Linked DNA regions of Homo sapiens: regions 1, 2 and 4 are each reported to be linked to region 3. Evidence: microRNA targets listed by miRTarBase, many of them from high-throughput screens and not tested one by one. Region 3 holds a microRNA gene; each other region holds the end of a gene's coding sequence. Distances are between the middles of the regions.
What was found. Region 3 holds the annotated microRNA hsa-miR-6889-5p (UCGGGGAGUCUGGGGUCCGGAAU, at 1,758-1,780, shown strand). A microRNA usually pairs through its seed, bases 2 to 8, with sites in the 3' UTR of a target mRNA and lowers its output. Matches are read on the target gene's strand: a 7mer-m8 pairs with bases 2 to 8, a 7mer-A1 pairs with bases 2 to 7 and ends in A, and an 8mer does both.

Region 1: miRTarBase lists ZCCHC3 as a target of hsa-miR-6889-5p. Seed matches in the 3' UTR shown: 7mer-m8 at 1,288-1,294.
Region 2: the mRNA of EMID1 is a reported target of hsa-miR-6889-5p. Seed matches in the 3' UTR shown: 8mer at 4,140-4,147.
Region 4: the mRNA of HCFC1 is a reported target of hsa-miR-6889-5p. Seed matches in the 3' UTR shown: 7mer-m8 at 717-723.

The regions. Positions count from the first base shown.
Region 1 is chr20:297,832-302,895 of GRCh38, forward strand. It overlaps ZCCHC3 (zinc finger CCHC-type containing 3), which reads left to right. Exons shown (of 1, transcript NM_033089.7): 1 at 1-2,490. The coding sequence ends at 967. Among named protein-coding and RNA genes, the nearest start is that of ZCCHC3, 2.8 kb to the left of the region's middle. RefSeq lists silencers at 113-182, 3,374-3,668.
Region 2 is chr22:29,258,403-29,263,466 of GRCh38, reverse strand. EMID1 (EMI domain containing 1) reads right to left here. Exons shown (of 15, transcript NM_133455.4): 15 at 3,870-4,650. The coding sequence ends at 4,523. It overlaps RHBDD3 (rhomboid domain containing 3), which reads left to right. Exons shown (of 7, transcript NM_012265.3): 5 at 2,603-2,765; 6 at 2,854-3,141; 7 at 3,230-3,595. The coding sequence ends at 3,407. Among named protein-coding and RNA genes, the nearest start is that of RHBDD3, 7.0 kb to the left of the region's middle. RefSeq lists enhancers at 2,163-3,016, 3,017-3,871.
Region 3 is chr22:41,249,734-41,254,802 of GRCh38, reverse strand. It overlaps MIR6889 (microRNA 6889), which reads left to right and starts at 1,753; the gene lies at 1,753-1,811. It overlaps RANGAP1 (Ran GTPase activating protein 1), which reads left to right. Exons shown (of 16, transcript NM_002883.4): 11 at 309-495; 12 at 1,812-1,931; 13 at 3,694-3,796; 14 at 4,986-5,069.
Region 4 is chrX:153,944,756-153,949,819 of GRCh38, reverse strand. HCFC1 (host cell factor C1) reads left to right here. Exons shown (of 26, transcript NM_005334.3): 25 at 204-267; 26 at 434-2,263. The coding sequence ends at 473. Among named protein-coding and RNA genes, the nearest start is that of RENBP, 2.6 kb to the right of the region's middle. RefSeq lists enhancers at 1,556-2,095, 4,262-5,025 and a silencer at 4,935-4,994.

The sequences.
Region 1 (5,064 bases), not on the chromosome of region 3:
GGCGCCGGACCTCGGCGACTTCCCACCGGCTGGCCGCGGGGATCCGAAGGGCCGTCGGAGAGATCCGGCCGGCGAGGCGGTGGACCCCCGCAAAAAGAAGGGCGCTGCGGAGGCGGGCAGGAGGAAGAAGGCCGAGGCGGCGGCGGCCGCCATGGCGACCCCGGCCAGGCCCGGCGAGGCCGAGGACGCGGCCGAGCGGCCCCTCCAGGATGAGCCGGCGGCGGCGGCAGGCCCGGGCAAGGGTCGCTTCCTCGTCCGCATCTGTTTCCAGGGAGACGAGGGCGCCTGCCCGACCCGGGACTTCGTGGTAGGAGCGCTTATCCTGCGCTCCATCGGCATGGACCCGAGCGACATCTACGCGGTCATCCAGATCCCGGGCAGCCGCGAATTCGACGTGAGCTTCCGCTCAGCGGAGAAGCTGGCCCTGTTCCTACGCGTCTACGAGGAGAAGCGGGAGCAGGAGGACTGCTGGGAGAACTTTGTGGTGCTGGGGCGGAGCAAGTCCAGCTTGAAGACGCTCTTCATCCTCTTCCGGAACGAGACGGTGGACGTGGAGGACATTGTGACTTGGCTCAAGCGCCACTGCGACGTGCTGGCCGTGCCGGTGAAAGTGACCGACAGGTTTGGGATCTGGACCGGGGAGTACAAATGCGAGATCGAGCTGCGCCAGGGGGAGGGCGGGGTCAGGCACTTGCCAGGGGCCTTCTTCCTGGGGGCCGAGAGGGGCTACAGCTGGTACAAGGGGCAGCCCAAGACATGCTTTAAATGTGGTTCCCGGACCCACATGAGCGGCAGCTGCACGCAGGACAGGTGCTTCAGGTGCGGGGAGGAGGGGCACCTGAGCCCTTACTGCCGGAAGGGCATCGTGTGCAACCTCTGTGGCAAGCGAGGACACGCCTTTGCCCAGTGTCCCAAAGCAGTGCACAATTCCGTGGCAGCTCAGCTAACCGGCGTGGCCGGGCACTAAACACCCGCCTGCCTGCCAGGGTGAACACACAGCCAGCTTATCCCTCTTAAGTGCCAAAACTTTTTTTTAAACCATTTTTTATCGTTTTTGAAGGAGATCTTTTTAAAACCTACAAGAGACATCTCTCTATGCCTTCTTAAACCGAGTTTACTCCATTTCAGCCTGTTCTGAATTGGTGACTCTGTCACCAATAACGACTGCGGAGAACTGTAGCGTGCAGATGTGTTGCCCCTCCCTTTTAAAATTTTATTTTCGTTTTTCTATTGGGTATTTGTTTTGTTTCTTGTACTTTTTCTCTCTCTCCTTGCCCCCCTCCCGCCCTCCCCGCCCCATACCTTTTCTTCCCCTGGATTTTCACCCTTTGGGCTGCCTTGCTCATCTTTATGCCCCAGCACTAGGTACGGGGCCCAACACGTGGTAGGCACTCCATCAGTGTTTGCTGAATTGAAAACATTGTTGACTGTGGCTTCTATCAGAGTGTCTACCTTTTGCAGCTCTTCCCCTCCCTCATTTAATTTGCTGCTTTTAATCTACGTGGTCTGAGAATTTGTGAAACCAGTGTTGTTAGAAGTGTATATAATCTGAATCAATAAGCTCTGAATGGTGGCCAAGGGCCTCTCTTATGGCACAAAGATGCATGGACTTCATGACAGCTCTTTTGGTGGCTCAGAAGCCATTTTTTATAGAATCATGGAATCTAGAATATTCCTGCTGGAAAGAACCTGAGAGTTGGTTTGGACCAATTCCCTGGTTTTCCAGCAGATGAAACAGGCCCAAAGAGGTTAAATGACTGGGTGAAAATCACATAGCTGTCTGGTGCCAGAGCCAGCCTATAGTAGAGTCCCCTGACCCCAAGCCCGGTGCTCATTCCACTACCTCTCACACTTCACAACAATTTCCTCAACACTTGAGGGCCCAGAAAGTCTGATCTCTCCAGAATGATCAGCCCAGAGGAATGCTGAGAAATCACCTGGAGGAGGGAGCAGAAAGAGAAGGTTTTTAAGGAGGGGCTTCTGAATACTTGGGAGATACGGAACGGACCAAGGACCACACTCCAGGGTGCATTCGTTGCTCCCTGGGGCACCACTTCTGGATTACAGTGTGCCAGGTCCTTTGGAGGCCCTACCCCTTCCCCATTCATTGCCACCAGTGAGAAATGGGGGTGCCCCTGTGTAAAGAAACCTACCAAAGGTTTACATTTGCACCTTAGCCTCAATAGCTACGAACCCTAGAGAAGCAGCTAGCTGGAGCTCATGTGCAACTCCTGATTCTCAGGAGAAAGATGGATTTTAACCCAAAATTATGAGTGAGCTGTTAACTCTAAAATGTACTTGGGAGATAGGCCAAGCGAGAGGTCATGGGCCAACTAAGTGTTATCCAGTAGAAAAGACAGTACACTGCTTTTCTTTTAGTGTTTGCTTTTCCTTTGCTATATGTTTTGCTATTTCCTTGTGGCTTAGAATGTAAAATTGATTGTTAAAAGTTTTGTTCTGAATAAATATTTATCTTTTGTATTGCTAAAACTGGTGCACTATTTCCTTTCAAAGTGTTAGATGCACAGTTACCCAGCTCCAGACCGTATTTCAATCCCACTTCCCCTACACTCCATTTGTTTACCTTGCTAAATACATTTCCCACCCCTGCAGGCAACACTTAGCACCTACTACGTTGTGCCGGTCCCTTTGCATCACAATCAGCACACTGTTAAAACGGGTTTTAAGTCCTAACACAGTTCCAATAAATCAGAATCACTGTTAGAGGAAGTGAAACATTTTAGTTAATCATCCTCAAGCAATTCTGATGGGCAGCCAGGTTTGAGACCAGAGTATAAGATGTGTGAGCTGAACCCTGCCCTCAGGGAGATTACAGACCTGTGGGAAAGAGAGGTGGTTTGCCAGCTTCCTCGTCTTTCTGTTACTGTAAGCGCGCGCTGTGGATGGGATGCAAAATATTCTTGGGTTCTGGGAAAATGCCATTTCTTCCAGCTGTTGAAAAAGCGGGATCCAGGGAGCTGACTTCTCCAAGTTAGCCCCCACTGGAGACTGGGCCTGCAGGCAGAATAGGGTCAAGGTCCCTGGACTTCAGGTCCAATACCCTGCAGACCCCAGATACAACTCTCTGAAGGATTTTCCAGCTGGTGATGCTAGGATGATCTGATCCTGAGAGTTAAACGTTCCCAGTATATTGACTCTGACTCAGTGATTTGAGGATATTTCCAGAGCTGATCTGGAGTTGGGACCTGGTAGGCTCTTGGGAATCCTGTCTTTCAGAGCCAGTTCAACCCCTCTCCTTGTCTCCCAAAGCAAGCAGACTCTCCCCTCCCTCCCATCCCTCTTTCCCGTCTTTGCCAGCGGTTTCCCTCCCTCTCACAGAGCTGGAGGCCAGGGGCCAGGAGAAAGCCTGCATTCACCATACTCTCCACTCCGTTCCTCAAAGCAGGCACTGTGCCAGGGAGCCTCCTTGAAGGAACCTTCCCTCTCCTGGCCCCATCCCCCCACTCTCCAGGAGGGAGGAGAGGAAGAAACTGTTTCCCTGCCCATCCCCCACAGGATCTGCTTCAAGGCCTCCTGCCTGGTGGCCCAGGGACAGCCAGGGGCTGGAGCTGAACAAACCTCCCCCAGCTTCCTTTCCTGATCAAGCAGCCCTCAAATTACAATTCTTCACTGTTTTTGGGCTCCTGGAAAGTGTGCAGAGATGCCCGGACTGAGGCTGGTTGACTAGGGGACATTGATTCATTCCACTTCAACAAATACGGAGGGCATTAGAGCTGGGCCCCATGCAAGGCCCTCTGCATAGGCTGCCTTGAACAAGACAGTGCACTTGCAATGGAAGGTACAGATAAGTAACAGTAGGCAATGTTTACAATCATATATTTAACAATTTTTTTTTGAGACAGAGTCTCACTCTGTTGCCCAGGCTGGAGTGCAGTGGCATGATCTTGGCTCACTGCAACCTCCACCTCCCGGATTCAAGCGATTCATGTGCCTGAGCCTTCCAAGTAGCTGGGATTACAGGCACGTGCCACCACGCCCGGCTAATTTTTGTATTTTTAGTGGAGATGGGGTTTCAGCATGTTGGCCAGGCTGGTCTCGAACTCCTGACCTCAGGTGATCCACCTGCCTCAGCCTCTGAAAGTGCTGGGATTACAGGCGTGAGACACCGCACCCAGCCAACATTTGTCCTGTATAGAATTGTCTGAAGTAAAGGTTTCCCTAGAAGAGAAAACGTCCTGACTGAAACCTGCAAGATGAGTAAGAACCAGGCTAAGAGTGAAGAGACAGCCAAGCAGCAGAAATAGCAGATGTAGAGGCCTGGAGGCCAGAGAGCACACAGCGTGTTCGGACTGGCCAAGAGTCAGGGGAAGATGTGGCTGGGAGAAAACGCCGAGAAGAGGTGTCACAGGGCTTACCAGCCATATTTAAAAACGTGGATTTTGTCCTCAGAGCCTCCAATCAGGCCTCCTCCATTCCATTCATTCTTTCAACACATGCCTGTTAAGCGCCAACTCTATAGGGGCCTTTTCTAAGCGATGGAACACAGCATGGAGCAGGATAATCAAGTCCCTGAAGCTCAGATTCTAGAGTCACACAAGTACATAATTACAGACGATGATGCACTAAAAGAAACATACAGGGTGAGATCCCTGTTTAACAAGCAAAGCTGATCCAGTCTTAAGGATCAGAGAAAATGTTTGAACTGAGATGGAAAAGACATAAAAGGAGTTAATCGAGAGATGGGGCTGGGGATTAAGGGATGGCAAGGGTATTAACCTAGGCAAGAGGGATAGCAAGTAAAACAACCCTATAGTGGGAGGAGGCATGACCACTTCTAGAGACTAAATGAATCAGTCTAAGTTTAGAAACAGAAACCACTCTTGCTGTTGAAGAAAATGCTGGTCCCTGGGCTGGGTATTAGGAATGACTCCTAGAACACCATAGAACTGCCAGGGGAGTTACTACCTCTCACAGTCAGAAAGACAGAAGCCAGGAGGCCACCACTGGAAAGGCTGAGCATGAGGACACAATGGTGAAGCTGCCACCCAAAGACAGGATCCTGGGATCAGAAAGTCACTGCCAATGCCACTGGCAGGACAGTGA
Region 2 (5,064 bases), 12 Mb from region 3:
GTGGCTCACGCCTGTAACCCCAGCACTTTGGGAGGCCAGGCGGGCAGATCACTTGAGGTCTGGAGTTCAAGACCAGCCTGGCCAACATGGTGAAACCCCATCTGTACTAAAAATAAAAAAATTAGGCCAGGCGCGATGGCTCATGCCTGTAATCCCAACACTTTGGGAGGCCAAGGTGGGCGGATCACGAGGTCAGGAGTTCGAGACTAGCCTGGCCAACATGGTAAAACCCCATCTCTACTAAAAATACAAAAATTAGCTGGGCGTGGTGGCGTGCACCTGTAATCCCAGCTACTTAGGAGACTGAGGCAGGAGAATCACTTGAACCTGTGAGGCAGAGGCTGCAATGAGCCGAGAACATGCCACTGCACTCCAGCCTGGGCGACAGGGCAAGACCCCGGTCTCAAACCCCAAAAAACAAAAATTAGCCAGGCGTGGTGGCAGGCGCCTATAGTCCCAGCTACTTGGGAGACTGAGACAGGAGAATCACTTGAACCTGTGAGGCAGAGGCTGCAATGAGCCGAGAACATGCCACTGCACTCCAGCGTGGGCGATAGGGTGAGACTCCGGTCTCAAACCCCAAAAAACAAAAATTAGCCAGGCGTGGTGGCAGGCGCCTGTAGTCCCAGCTACTTGGGAGACTGAGACAGGAGAATTGCTTGAATCCGAGAGGCAGAGGCTGCAGTGAGCCAAGATAGCGCTGCTGCACTCCAGCCTGGGCGAGAGAGCGAGACTTCCTCTCAAAAAAAAAGAAAATTAAAAGCCTAAGTGAATGGAAAGATCTCATGTTCACGGATTGGAATACTTAATATTGTTAAAATGGTAATGCTACTCAGTTGATTTATAGATCCCACACAATTCTTATCAAAATCTCAGCTGTCTTTGTTGTTGTTGCAGAAATTAGCAAGCTGGTCCTAAAAATAATATGGAAATGTAAAGAACCCAGAATACCTCAGATAATCTTGAAAAAGAAAAGCAAACCTGGAAGACTTACACTTTTCAATTTCAAAACTTAAAACTACAAAAGTGGCCAGGTGCGGTGGCTCACACCTGTAATCCCAGCACTTTGAGAGGCCGAGGCAGACAGATCACTTGAGGTCAGGAGTTCAGGACCAGCGTGGCCAACATGGTGAAACCCCATCTCTACTAAAAATACAAAAATTAGCCAGGTGTGGTGGCACACGCCTGTAATCCCAGCTGCTCAGGAGGCTGAGGCAGGAGAATTGCTGGAACCCAGGAGAGAGGTTGCAGTGAGCTGAGATTGCACCACTGCCCTCCAGCCTGGGCGACAGAGCAAGACTCTCTCCAAAAAAAAAAAAAAAAAAAAGCCGTACAAAATTATAATAATCAAGATATTGTGGTACTGGCATCAGGATAGACATACAGATCAATGGACTAGAATTGACCATCTAGAAATAAACTGTTAGATTTACTGTATAGTCAATTTATTTTGACAAGAGTGCCAAGTCGATTCAATGAGGAAAAGAATATTCTTTTTAATAAATGGTGCTAGAGGCTGGGTGCAGTGGCTCACGCCTGTAATCCTAGCACTTTGGGAGGCTGAGGTGGGCCGATTTCTTGAGGCCAGGAGTTTGAGACCAGCCTAGCCAACATGGTGAAACCCTGTACTAAGAATACAAAATAATTAGCCAGGTGTGATGGCACGTGCCTGTAATCCCATCTATTCGGGAAGCTGAGGCAGGAGAATTGCTTGAACCTCGGAGTTGGAGGTTGCAGTGAGCCGAGATTTCACCACTGCATATCAGCCTGGGTGACAGAGTGAGACTCTGTCTCAAAAATAAATAAATAAATAAGTCGTGCTAGAGCACTCTTTATTGGTGTTCTGCTTCTGAGATTTTTTTTTTAATTTTTAGAGACAGGGTCTCATTCTGTCACCCAAGCTGGAGTGTGGCGACGCCATCATAGCTCACTACAGCCTCAAACTCCTGGGCTCAAGCGATCCTCTTGCCTCAGCCACTTGAGTAGCTGAGATTACAGGTGTGCACTGCCACGTCCAGCTAATTTTAAAAATTTTTTGTAGAGACGGGGTCTATGTTGCCCAGGCTGGTCTTGAACTCCTGGCCTCAAGTGATCCTCCCGTCTCAGCCTCCCCAAGTGCTGGGATTATACAGCTGTGAGCCACTGCGTCCAGCCCTAAGATGATTCATACCTATCGGGGAAAACAGTGCCACTGGAGAGAACAGGCTGGCCTCTGCACTCTGGATTGGTGACAGGAGTTATCCAGGCCTGTCTGAAGGCAATAGCAGGTGTGTCCATGGGACTTCTTCCAGGACGGGTGGGTCTTGAGTTACAGACCTGAAAAGGTGCATAGGGTTCTGGGAACAGAGTGGGTCACGGGTGAGCCCAGGCCTTGGGGTGAGGCATACCTGGCTCTGTTTGGCTGAGTAGCTTCAGGCAGATCCCTTTTCCTTTCTGAGCCTCTGCTGCTGACCAGGGTGACGCTATTCCATGCTGGTCCACAGTGAGGAGACGGGAGGGAATGGTGGCCAGCACACTTGGCATGGGGCCTGGCCTGTGGCGTGGGCCCACCCCTGGCTGCTTTTGGTTTTCCTTGACCGGCCGCCCTGCCCCGGGCAGACAGATGCAGCTGGGGCCTTCCGGTGGCTGGAACCCTCAGAGCGACGGCTGCAGGTGCTGCAGGAGGGCGTCTTGTGCAGGACCTTGGCGGGGTGCTGGCCCCTGAGGCTCCTTGCCACCCCGGGTAGCCTGGCGGAGCTGCCTGTCACCCATCCTGCCGGAGTGAGGTGAGGGTGATGGGGGGGATGCCAGTCCAGGTGGTGGGCACTGTGGCAGGGCTGCCAGTCAGGCCCTCTTCTCTTCCCACTCCTCCAGGCCTCCCATCCCTGGACCGCCTTATGTGGCCTCCCCTGACCTCTGGTCCCACTGGGAAGACTCAGCCCTGCCCCCACCAAGCCTGAGGCCTGTGCAGCCCACCTGGGAGGGCTCCTCAGAGGCAGGCCTGGACTGGGCTGGGGCCAGCTTCTCCCCAGGGACTCCGATGTGGGCGGCCTTGGATGAGCAGATGCTGCAGGAGGGCATCCAGGCCTCGCTTCTTGACGGGCCAGCCCAGGAACCCCAGAGCGCACCATGGCTGTCCAAGTCCTCTGTCTCCTCTCTGCGGTAAGGTGGGGTGGGCAGAGGTGGGGTCCCCTGGTATAGGGGCCGGGGTGGCCCTGACACTCCCCACTTCTCCCCCCACCCCCAACAGGCTGCAGCAGCTGGAGCGCATGGGCTTCCCTACGGAGCAGGCGGTGGTGGCACTGGCAGCCACAGGCCGTGTGGAGGGTGCCGTGTCACTGTTGGTTGGAGGACAAGTGGGCACTGAGACCCTGGTGACCCATGGAAAGGGTGGGCCTGCCCACTCCGAGGGTCCTGGGCCTCCCTAGCCCAGGCAGAGAGTGGGGCACAGGCAGGCCCTTGGGTGCTAAGGGCTGGGCTGCATGTGGGTAGCCCGAGCTCCTACTCTGTCTAAAGAGGGCCACAGTGGGGAGCAGGGGCACCTCTGGAGGCAGGAGAGGCCCCCCAGCATGCTGCCCTAGTACGTGTTTAGAATAAAAACCAGTTTGTTTTTCAACCTGGACCTCCTTGGAGGCAGCAGTTGTGTTTGACTCTTCTGTGTTGGCATCAGGGGGATGAATGAATGAGTGAGCACCAAATGAATGACCAGTTGTGGGAGAGCTGTTCCCTGATGTCCAGAGACACAGGCTTCCTGGCCCTGCACCTTGCAGCCTATACCTCCAGGAGGCTCTGTCCTCCAGCACAGAGCATTCTCCACCGCCCATTTCTAGCCCTCTCCGTCGTAGCCTCATTCCCAGCTGCCCCCATCTAAGCACACACTGAGACCAAGCTGCGGGGAATCAGGTAGGGGCCTTTATTGGCCAGCACACATCTACCTCCTGGCATCTGTCACAAGCATTTGCAGGAGTAGGCGGCCCCTTCCTCTCCATGTCCCCATCCCCAACCTGAGATGCGGGAGGGCCTGGGGGCTCAGAGGGAAGAACTGAGGCAAGAAGCCCCCGGTGATCCAGTCAGAGGATTGGGCAGCCTGACCTCGGGGTGGGGAGCCCAGCACTGGACAACAAGGAGGGAGGGGCACAGGAGGGCTCCCCGAGGTTTGGTCGGGGAGGGGGAGGAAGACTGCCCCCTGCCCTGTCATCTCTGCATGTGCCGAGCCCCAGCTCCTGACTCCCTCAGTGCCTTTGGGCCTGGATGCTCAGACAGCAGATGAGACGAAGCCTTGTACCTCTATCCCTCCTTGAAGGCCTGCCTCCCCCCACTTCACAGAGGGAAACTGAGGCCCAAGCCTCTCCTCTCAGCCCTTGCTCAGCCTCAGACATGTGCATGGTGCCAGGACTGAGACCTGCTTACCCCTAAGGCCTAGATGGCAGAAGGGACCCTGAGGACATTAATAAATATGGACGGGCGGTCCCTGGAGGCAGCTGGCCGAGTCCAGGTAGGAGGGGAAGCCTGGCCTGGTCTGCCTCAGGGGCCGCCACCACCCTCAGCCTCTCTCGTCCCGGCTCCTGGGGGCCACGATCCGGTAGTTGGTTGCATGTCCGCCCCTCTTGCCCCGAAGGAGGCTGGGGGTGCCTGTGCCGGCAGGGCCCGCCCCAGACCCCAGCTCTGGTTCTGCCGGAGGGAAGAAGGAGAGAGGCCACATTAGAGGGGTTCATGTGAGGTGCCCACCTCCCCTTGGCCCTCTAGGGGGTGGCAGAACCGGGCACGCTCTGCCAGGTATAATCCACCCTGGTATCTGGCTGCAGAGCTGTGGGAAAGGGGGTCTGCAGATTGGTTGGTGCCTCACGCCAGGACTTACCAGCCCCCCAGCCCAAGGAGAGCACTCAGGGCCTCTGCTTCCTGCTTTGTCAGGTGGGGATAACCACACCCACCTCCTTTAGGAAGTGTTTAGATGCAGTGAATGCTTCATAGAAAGGCTGCTTCTTTTTCTATTCATTTTGGGGTGGAGGTGTGCCCTGAGTCATCCCCATTTGGTAGCTGGGTAAACTGAGGCCAGGGAACAGACATGGGCTAGGCCACCAGTTG
Region 3 (5,069 bases):
GACGGGGTTTCACCACGTTAGCCAGGATGGTCTCGATCTCCTGACCTCATGATCCACCCACCTCGGCCTCCCAAAGTGCTGGGATTACAGGCATGAGCCACCGCGCCGGGCCGATCTTATTTTTTTGTGTCCACAGCATGGATTTCCCTGGTGATCCACCTGCCCCTGCCCTGGGAGCAGGTGCTCCCACCCCACCAGGCTCTCTCCCTCCTGGCTGAGGTGAGGTCTCTGGGCTCATGGAGCCAGGCCTTAGAGCCAACCTGGGCTGCTGGGTAGAGAGGATCTGCTTCAGCCAGCTCTTTCTGCAGTGATGACGAGGACGAGGAGGAGGAGGAGGAAGGAGAAGAGGAAGAAGAGGAAGCAGAAGAAGAGGAGGAGGAAGATGAGGAAGAGGAGGAAGAAGAGGAGGAGGAGGAGGAAGAAGAGCCTCAGCAGCGAGGGCAGGGAGAGAAGTCAGCCACGCCCTCACGGAAGATTCTGGACCCTAACACTGGGGTGAGTTTCTATCATCTGCCACAATCAGAGCCCTGGTCCTGAGAACGTGAAATCCCGAGGCACTTTCACAATGGGGTAGGGGGTGTCTCCTTAAGCACAGTAGCCACAAACATTTTTTTTTGATTGCATGATATTGAGTAAAAAAAGGAAAATGGTCCCAGTGTAATGATAGTTACCTATATTTCTTTTTTTTTTTTTTGAGATGGAGTCTCACTCTTGTCACCCAGGCTGGAGTGCAGTGGTGTGATCTCGGCTCACTGCAACCTCTGCCTCCCGGGTTCAAGTGATTCTTATGCCTCAGCCTCCCAAACAGCTGGGATTACAGATGCTTGCCACCACGCCTGGCTAATTTTTGTATCTTTAGTAGAGCCGGGGTTTCGCCATATTGGCCAGGCTGGTCTTGAACTTCTGACCTCAGGTGATCCACCCTCCTCGACCTCCCAAAGTGCTGGGATTACAGGCATTGAGCCACCGGGCCCAGCCATAGTTACCTATATTTCTATTTACCCCAATATAAATGTCTATTTACAGGTAGCAGTGCTGCTGCATTATGTATATTATAAGATATGCATAAGGGTTTCTGAAAGAATAAACAAATAAGCATAAATAGAAATTCTGATTTTTTTTTTCCCCACCCACCAGAGGATTGTCTTGGTGACCCTTAGGAACCACTCCCCCATTCCTGGGATGGTGGCTGGGCCATGACCTGGCTTGGGCACTTGGTGTCCCTTGTCTGGCCCGGGGCTGCATCAGGGCTGCCACACCTCCAGTTCATTCATTTGCATTCCCTGTCAGGTTCCTAAGTAAAGCTCCTGGAGAACTTGGCTCTGGACAAGGACTCCCCATGCTTACGCTGAATTGGGCTGCTTCTCTGGTTTATGGAATCAATTAAACAAATGGCTAGGTTCGCCTCAATTCAGTTTTTCCTCTGGGCACCTCTGGTGCTAGCAGGGCTTACCCAGGCTGGACTGTAGTTCTACGGGGACCCACTTTAGCCCCCATGTGCCTCCGTAGTCATTTCTGGGGCACTGCATGTCATGACGAGGATCCACTTGGCCGTAGCAGGTTTTTTGAGTCCCAGGGAGGTAGCTTCCCCCTCACCCCAAAGGCTCCTGGACCAAGAGCCATCCAGGGCCAGCATCTCTGGGTGATATTGATAGATGGGAAATGCAGCTGAGTGGGAGGAAGAATTCTAGACTTTGAGCCTAGATGGGCTGGAGTGAAGGGTGGATGTGCTGGGTGTGGGGATGGGCACAGCTGTGTCGGGGAGTCTGGGGTCCGGAATTCTCCAGAGCCTCTGTGCCCCTACTTCCCAGGAGCCAGCTCCCGTGCTGTCCTCCCCACCTCCTGCAGACGTCTCCACCTTCCTGGCTTTTCCCTCTCCAGAGAAGCTGCTGCGCCTAGGGCCCAAGAGCTCCGTGCTGATAGCCCAGCAGGTAATAACCACCCCTCGACCCCCACGCTGTACGTGCTGTGGCTTCTGGAGCTGTTAGAGAAAAGGGACGAACAGCTCAGAGACCTGGGGGTGCGACGCTGTCAGCTGGGGGCAGGGAGGCTTGGCCTGCCACTGTTACAACACGCGCAAATGTCCAGGGTATTTATAAGCCTCCAGGGGTTGCAAATGTTCCCTCCCCACTCAGCCTACAGAAAGTACAGCCCGCCAGTTCCCATGCTGACTGGGGTTAGGGAATTTCCTTAAGAGCCTTGCATGTGCCCACCCCCTCCTTGGCTTCTCTCTGCGTGTTCCGTCAGCCCAGCTGCTTCGAGAACAACTCTGTTGCCCAGGGCTCCTTTGGAAGTGACGTGCCTATTGCAGGATGGGTGCCCTCACTCCAGCCTCACTTGTTGGTTGGCTCATTCATTCATTCATAGATGATCTTCGGGGCATCCATTTTCTGCCAGGCACTGCATTTGGGCATGATTTTATTTAACCCTCTTGGCAACATGAAATGTAGACTCTGCTGCCCTTACTTTATTTTATTATTTATTTATTTATTTATTTTTTTGAGATGGAGTCTCACTCTGTCGCCCAGGCTGGAGTGCAGTGGCACGATCTCGGCTCACTGCAGACTCTGCCTCCTGGGTTCAAGCAATTCTCCTGCCTCAGCCTCCCGCGCCCAGCTAATTTTTGTATTTTTTAGTAGAGACGAGGTTTCACCACGTTGGCCAGGCTGGTCTCAAACTCCTGACCTCATGATCCACCCACCTCGGCCTCCCAAAGTGCTAGGGTTACAGGCATGAGCCACCGTGCCCGGCCAGCCCTTATTTTGTAGATAAGAAAGCGGAGGCTCGGAGGTTACAGAGAAATAAAATGGGCCCACTCTCAGAGTTGGCTTAACATTTCGGCCAATTGCTTTGTTAGGTTTTGCCTGTATTCTTTGTTTCTTTTAACATGATAAATCAGATGTTGTAAGCCTTTCTGTGGCCTATCACTTTGGTGTAGCACCATTCATCACTTTCTTGTGCCCATAAAACTCTTCTCAGGATTTTTATTGCAATGTGTGGATGTAGCACTTAAAAGCCAGGCACTGTTTCTGACGTTTTTTCCACTTTTCCCTGTTGTGAGGTTGAGGTAAACGTTTCTGCATGTGAGTATTGTCTACATGCTAGATTATTTCTTCAAGTTCAATTACAAGATGGGGACCACTGGATCCCTGAAATGATTTTTTTTTTTTTTTTTCTGAGACAATGTTTTGCTTTGTGACTCCGGCTGGAGTGCAGTGGTGCAATCATGGCTCAGTGCAACCTCGACCTCCTGGGCTCAAGCAGTCCTCCTGCCTCAGCCTCCCAAGTAGCTGAGACTATAGGCACACACCACCAACCTTGGCTAATTTTTTTCCTTTTTGTTGACATGGGGTCTTGCTATGTTGCCTAGGCTGGTCTCAGACTTTTCGCCTCAAGCCATCCTCCCACCTCAGCCTCCCAAAGTGCTGGGGTTACAGGCATGAGCCGCCACACCCGGCTGGGATGATTTTTCATCCTTGTTCATTCACTCATTCATTCCCTCTCTATGCTGCATATGTGCTTGCTGCAGGCCAAATCCAAGCCAGACTCTGAAGGGACAGCATGGGGTAAGGCAGGACCTGTTCTTGCCCGCCAGGGGCCTTTGTACTGCCCAGGCCTCTCCTAGCTAGCGTCAGAGCCCAGGTACCTCTCCACCACGTGCCACAGGCCAACCATTGTCTCTTTTGTCCTCAGACTGACACGTCTGACCCCGAGAAGGTGGTCTCTGCCTTCCTAAAGGTGTCATCTGTGTTCAAGGACGAAGCTACTGTGAGGATGGCAGTGCAGGATGCAGTAGGTAATGTGGGCTGGGTGAGACCTGGGTGCCCTCTGTCCCTTGATGCTCGTGGGCCCCAGGTATCCTTCGTGGTTGCCGTAACTCGTCAGCCCCAGCGCTCTCATGGGAACTGCTCTTTGGCCACCTGAGTTTTTCCTCCGTCAGGGTCCTGCCGTGGAGCCAGCTGGCTGCTCTTCTCCCTGTTTTTCACCACTGAGAAACTGAGGCCTTTCCCAAATCCACACAGCCATGTACAGTTAGAACCCATAGCCCGCTCTAGGAAGTCCAGATAGTCACATCTGCAAGCCCAATGGACGCAGGTCTATCGGGAGGAGGGATGGTGAGAGCCAAGCCCTTGTCCACACCTTGGAGCTTCTGTGCTCACGTCCACTCTACCTGGAGGTTCCTTGCACAGAGGACACCTTTCCCCATAACATTATGGGGGCTTCCTTGGAGCACCAGCCCATATCCCTCCAGCCCTATCACAACCCTCTCCCCACCCTGTCTGTTTCCTCCATTCCAGCACCTGTCACCTTCCACCCTGTTTCCATGTGCTTGACTGAGCCTCCACATCTAACGAAACCTGAGCCAGTTCCGGTTAGGCAGAGGGGAGGAAGGGCCCTGAGGCGAGGGGGACGGTTCCTGGAAAAGATAGAAAGGGGTGGAAGGACATGTGGTGCCTCTTCCCGGCGTGGCGTCGAAGCGGGGAGGGCGGCTCAGTGGGAAATGAGGCTCGGAAGGAGGTGGGGGCCAGACACAAGCCTGCTCCCTGAGGGCCCGCCTGTGGGCATTTTTGGGAACAAGTTGCCCTAGTTCTGTTTCCCAGGAAGCCTAGCACAGTCCCTGCACATCCCCTCACCCTGCCAAAATAACCTGAATCCTCCCCAGTGGTAGCCTGCCTCAGGAAATCTCCATTCCCACGGTGTGAGGTGGGCACAGTGGGTGTCATCCCCATGCCCATTTTATACCTGAGGCCAGGATGGGCAAGGGCCAGAGTGTCACAGCTGGCAGATGGACTGAGCCCATCCCCTGATGCCAACTGCCACTCCCTCTGGTTCCTGTGTCTCTGCCGTCCCTCTCGTGTTCGCCTCTTCGTCAGGGCGAGGAGGCAGGCGAGCCTGTGTCTGCGCGGTGTTGGGGGAACCCTGGGTGCCTTGGCCCAGCCCTCTGCCATAGCCAGCAGCCTGCCCCTGCTGCTTCTGCCCTACAGATGCCCTGATGCAGAAGGCTTTCAACTCCTCGTCCTTCAACTCCAACACCTTCCTCACCAGGCTGCTCGTGCACATGGGTCTGC
Region 4 (5,064 bases), not on the chromosome of region 3:
GTCCAGAGGGGAGTGAGTGGTGTCGTGTTCTGGTCCCAAGGAGTGGCGTAAAAGGTGACCACCCATAGGGCAGGCGCCCCACCCTTGCCAGCTGCGGGTCATGCCATGTGGCACCAAGAGACTCTGCAGGCGGGCAGGGCGCATGTGTTCCTTGCTCTCGTTCTGTCACAATGCTGCTCACGCATCTCTCCCGTTCCTTCCAGAAACCAGTAAAGACAGCTCTGGCACCAAGCCAGCCAACAAGCGGCCCATGTCCTCTCCAGAAATGTAAGCAGGAAGCCCCTCTCGGGAACCTTCTGAGACTAGGGGTGGAAATAGCTGGGTTCAGCCTCTTGTCAAATGACTGGGGGCCCCTAACCGGCCCTGCACCAGCAGGGCCTCCAGTGGTGCAGGGCCCACACTAACTTTCTCTTTCCTTTTTCTGCCTTCCAAGGAAATCTGCTCCAAAGAAATCTAAGGCCGATGGTCAGTGAGAGGAAGCTGACTAGCCCCTGGATTCTTCTCCAGACCCCCCTGCTTCAGGAACACCCGCCAGGGCCCACCCCTCCCACCCCGTCCCAGCATTCGCACTTCACCCTCGCGAGCCGCTGTTCACTCCTCTCCCCTTTCTCTTTCTCTCTGTTTTTAAAATAATCTAAAGAAAGCACATTTTACCATTGCTGTTGGGAGGAAGCAGAGGCAGATGGGAAAGCAGAGAGAGGAGCGCGCTTCCTTTCCTCCCCGCTGCCGCCCACCCTGGGGAGAGACTTTTGCGGGGAGGGAAGGCGGAGCTGAGGACAGCCAGCTCCGCCCTCCCAAGGCTGTGCGTTCCTGAGGGCCAGGTCGGGGGCAGGCATGGAGGGGAGGAAAGGCGTCCCTCTTGGCCCTCCCCAGAGTGGCTTTCCTGGCACCCTGGCCTGGGTGTCTGGTTCTGTTTTCTTTTCTTCCCCTTGTGTTTCCAGTCACCTAACTTCCCTTCCTCAGGCTCCCCCGGCCCACCCTGCTCAGTGACCCCACAGGAAGCTTACACATTTTCTCAGAGGCCTTTGTGCTCCCACCTCTTCTACCCTCCCCCTCTTCTTTCCCATTTTAAAAAAGAAAAGAAGGAAAAAGAAAAAAGGGGCAAGGAGCCCCGCGGCGGCCTGGGCAGCGCCTGTGCAGACCTCCCTGCAGGCCGCACTGCCAACTGCTGCATTTGTTGTGTTTTTTAGGTTGCAATTGGTGAAGTTCACACTTTCATTGTAATTTTAGCGTGTGGGGTTTTGTCCCTTTTTTGTTGTTGTTAGCTGTGTACAGAATGTGTAATCTTTTTTCTTTTCTCTTTTTTTTGTTTTGTTTTGTTTTGTTTTTGTTTTTTTACTTTTTTCTTCTTGGCTAATTCTTGGCAGGGATCTTTCTGGAGGAAAAGCTGGGGCCAGCCAGGGCAGGAGAGGTGTGAAATCTGCCACGAGGGGCCTGCTGTTTGCCACCCAGCCCAACTTCCTGTTGCTGGCCCCTGCCCTCTGCCCTTTTGCCTGTCCTCAGGCCGCTGGAACAAAGGAAGGACAGCTCATTCCTCATGGGCGATCACTCCGCATCTATAGGGTCGAGCCTAGGGGAGCTTGAGGGAGGGCTGGGGCCTCCTTGTCCTGGATTTCCAGCTCTCCCCATGCCCCCTCCCTGAGCACCACCGGCACCGCCTCCCAAACAGGGCTGCTGGTTTCCGCAGCCACTGCTCCACCTCCCCCAAATCGTCATGGAAAGGGTGGAGAATGGAGGGGAACCAGGCGTCCTTGGAGGCAGCTTGGGAGGGTGACTGTGTAGTGTCACCCACAAGGGAGGCTAGGGCAATGGAGCAGGCCACCAGCAGCAGCTGTGCAGCATGGAACTCAGGCCAGGCTCCGAGGCTGGGGGATCTGCTTGGAGTTTTCTGCCCCCCACCCCAAACTTCTGTCGAGGAGCAAGGCTTGCCAGCAAGTCAGAAGGATTTGAACCGAGCAGCCAATCTTTCCAGCCCTCCCCTACCGACCTCTGCCTGGAGACGCAGCAGCCTGTGTCCTCCAGGGCCTCTGGTTTGTTGTATTATAGTATATTTCGCTGTGGAAAATGTCACGTTTAGTCACCTTGGAGCCCACTCACCTGGTCCTGTTGTTTTACCCCATCCCTTCTCTCGCGCGCCTATTGATTTGTTTCTGAGGAGAGTACACCGTTCACTATTGTAGAGTAACCCCTGTGACTCAATATTACCATAGTGCGATGTCGTTTTGTGCTATTTTGAACAATTAAAAGACTTTTTTTGAAATAACCACTAGGTGTCTCACTGTGTCCCGGCATCCTCTCAGGAAGCCTGAGCGGGAAGGCTGAGACCTGCCCGAGGCTCACGGGAGCCCCCTGGAGGGAGACCTGAGCTCTGGTGAAAGCGTAGAAGGCCCCAGAGTGAGGCCTCTGCTGTGGCCTCCGGTCTTTGGACCAAGTCGGACCAGGGTCCAGCAGGTTGCTTGGTAGCTGCCTTGCAGGGCAAGGGCCAAAGAGCCCCTTGGGCAGCTGCTGCTGACTTCCTGTGTCTGGGGCCCAGATCTCCCTCCCTCCCCTCCTGCACTAGAGGATAGGATGGGGCAAGGGCCTGGCAGGTCACCAGCGGCAGCCTCCTTGGGTGGGTTGGGGGGAGGTGGGCTGAGTCAAGTACACCACGGGTACTGCAGAGGTGGATCCCTTCCTCTGGCTTCCTCTTAAATGTGAGCCATGCCCCCAAGGGGAAGAAGCAAGAGCTTGTGATCCAGACTGACCACCTAGCAGCTGGGTCGGTAGGACAGCTGGGATCCCGTGGGCTGAATTTGTACCAGGAGGCCCAGAAAGCTCCGGGGCAAGGTGGCCGGAGCAGCACAGGCCTAGGCGGGTCTGAGGGGAGTGACACCCTGCTTCTGGGGCCTGGTGCTCCTGGCGCACCTGCATTCCCCGCCCCCTCCAAGCCCCTGCCGCCTGCCTTTGTTTCCCCTACACACCTCTACTGCCCAGCCTTCCTCTCAGAGCACCCAGGCACTCCGCTACCAGAAGCTCCTGGAGTAACCAAAGCCTCCGTGTCTCCACCTGTGGCATGGGTGTGTGTGCAAGGCCCTGTCGAATGCGACCTCTTCTGGGAAGCCTCTGTCCTGTGGGGTCTGCTGTGTCATGTGGGGGTGGGGGGAAGCAGACTGGCCAGGGCTTGACACCAGGAGCCATGGCTCTGTCTTACCCACCGCACCAACTGTGACCTGCCTTGGAGCCTAGCCTCGCAGAGGCCCAAGGAGAGGGGTGGGAAAGTGTCCTTCAGAGCAGAGCGGTAGGAGTCATGGCTGGGGCTGGTGGAGGCCAGGGGCCACATGGGGCTGGCCCCAGAACCGAGGGGCCTTGCGGATTTGCCATACCTTTGGCAAATGGCGTTGTGGGCGCTTCGCCTGGTGGGGGTGGTACAAGGCTTCTTCCTACCCCACTTCTGTAGCTGGCACCTGTGGGGCTACCCACCCTCCGCATTCCTTCAGCTCACTTGTCTCACCGCGGCTGCATCACACTCCACAAGGCAAGGGCCACATCAGTCATGCCTCTGGTGTTTATCTGAAAATACCGCGTTTCCGTCTGAGGGCACCACTCAGTCTGGGGAGGCAGGAGGGAGGCTGGACATGAATGTGAACATGACAGGCCTGTGAGCAGGGCAGGTAGATACAGCCCGGCTGGGCACAAAGCTCATCCCCTGAGCATGAGCCGAGGCCGAGGGTGGGTGGGAGCACACAGAGGATGCCTCCCCAGCTGCCAGGGCATCAGCCTCATTACCAAGCACCCCAAAGGGGAACTGTTTGGGGTTGGGTGGGTCAGCCTGCAGCAGGGACTGAGACAGCCACTGTGGCATCAAAGACCAGCAGTGCAGTACCCACGCCCAGAGGCTGGAACCCATTTTGTGCACTGTTGGCCTGGAAGGTAGGAACCACCTCAGCCCAGCTGCCTTGTAGCATCATCGGGTCAGTCATAGAGCTACAGACAGATCTGGGCAGCTGGAAAACAGGCCCAGAGAAGGGGGGTGTGGGCTGTTACCTGCAGTTACTGTCTGGCCTTAGAGCTGTGTCACTTGTGTAAAGAAGTCAGTGCCAAGGCCGAGCGCGGTGGCTCACACCTGTAATACCAACACTTTGGGAGGCCGAGGCAGGTGGATCACGAGGTCAAGAATTTGAGACCAGCCTGGCCAACATGGTGAAAAACCGTCTACTAAAAAAAAAAAAAAAAAAAAAAAAAAAATTAGCTAGGCATGGTGGCAGGCACCTGTAATCCCAGCTACTCCAGAGGCCGAGGCAGGAGAATTGCTTAAACCCGGGAAGCGGAGGTTATAGTGAGCCAAGATCATGCCACTGCACTCCAGCCTGGGCGACAGAGCAAGACCCCATCTTGGGAAAAAAAAAAAAAAAATTAGCGCCAATGGCTGCCCATTACTGACTGTTGAGGTAGTTGGTGACAAACTGATTCAAAAGAGAGGACTTGCTAGGCTGGGTGCGGTGGCTCACGCCTGTAATCCCAGCACTTTGGGAGGCTGACGCAGGAGGATCGCTTGAGCTTAGGAGTTCGAGACCAGCCTGGGCAACATTGCAAAACCCTGTCTCCACTAAAAATACAAAAATTAGCCAGGCATGGTGGCCCACACCTGTGGTCCCACCTACTCAGGAGGCTGAGGTGGGAGGATCGCTTGAGCCTGGCAGGTCAAGGCTGCAGTGAGCTGCCTGGGCGACAGGACACTGTCTCAAAAAACAAAGAAACAAACAACAACAACAACAACAAAAACAGAACTTGCCTCCTGTCTACCCTGTGTGGTGACAGGTCAGAGGGACCTCTGCATTCAGGCCCACTAGCTGTTCCCTGTCCTGCTGCACCCCTGCCCCACAGGCTTGGTAGGGCCAAGGCCCTCAGCCGCCCTGCCGGGGCCCCTGGTGTAGGGCGGGGTGGGTGGCAGCCCCGTTCCCCCTCATCCCAGACCCTCCGGCCATCCCAGCTTTTCCCACCAAGCAGGATCTTGAGACCAGAGCTCCCAGCAGGGGCCCTGGAGGGACTGGCCCATTCGAGTGGAGGGTCGCGGCAGGAACAAGT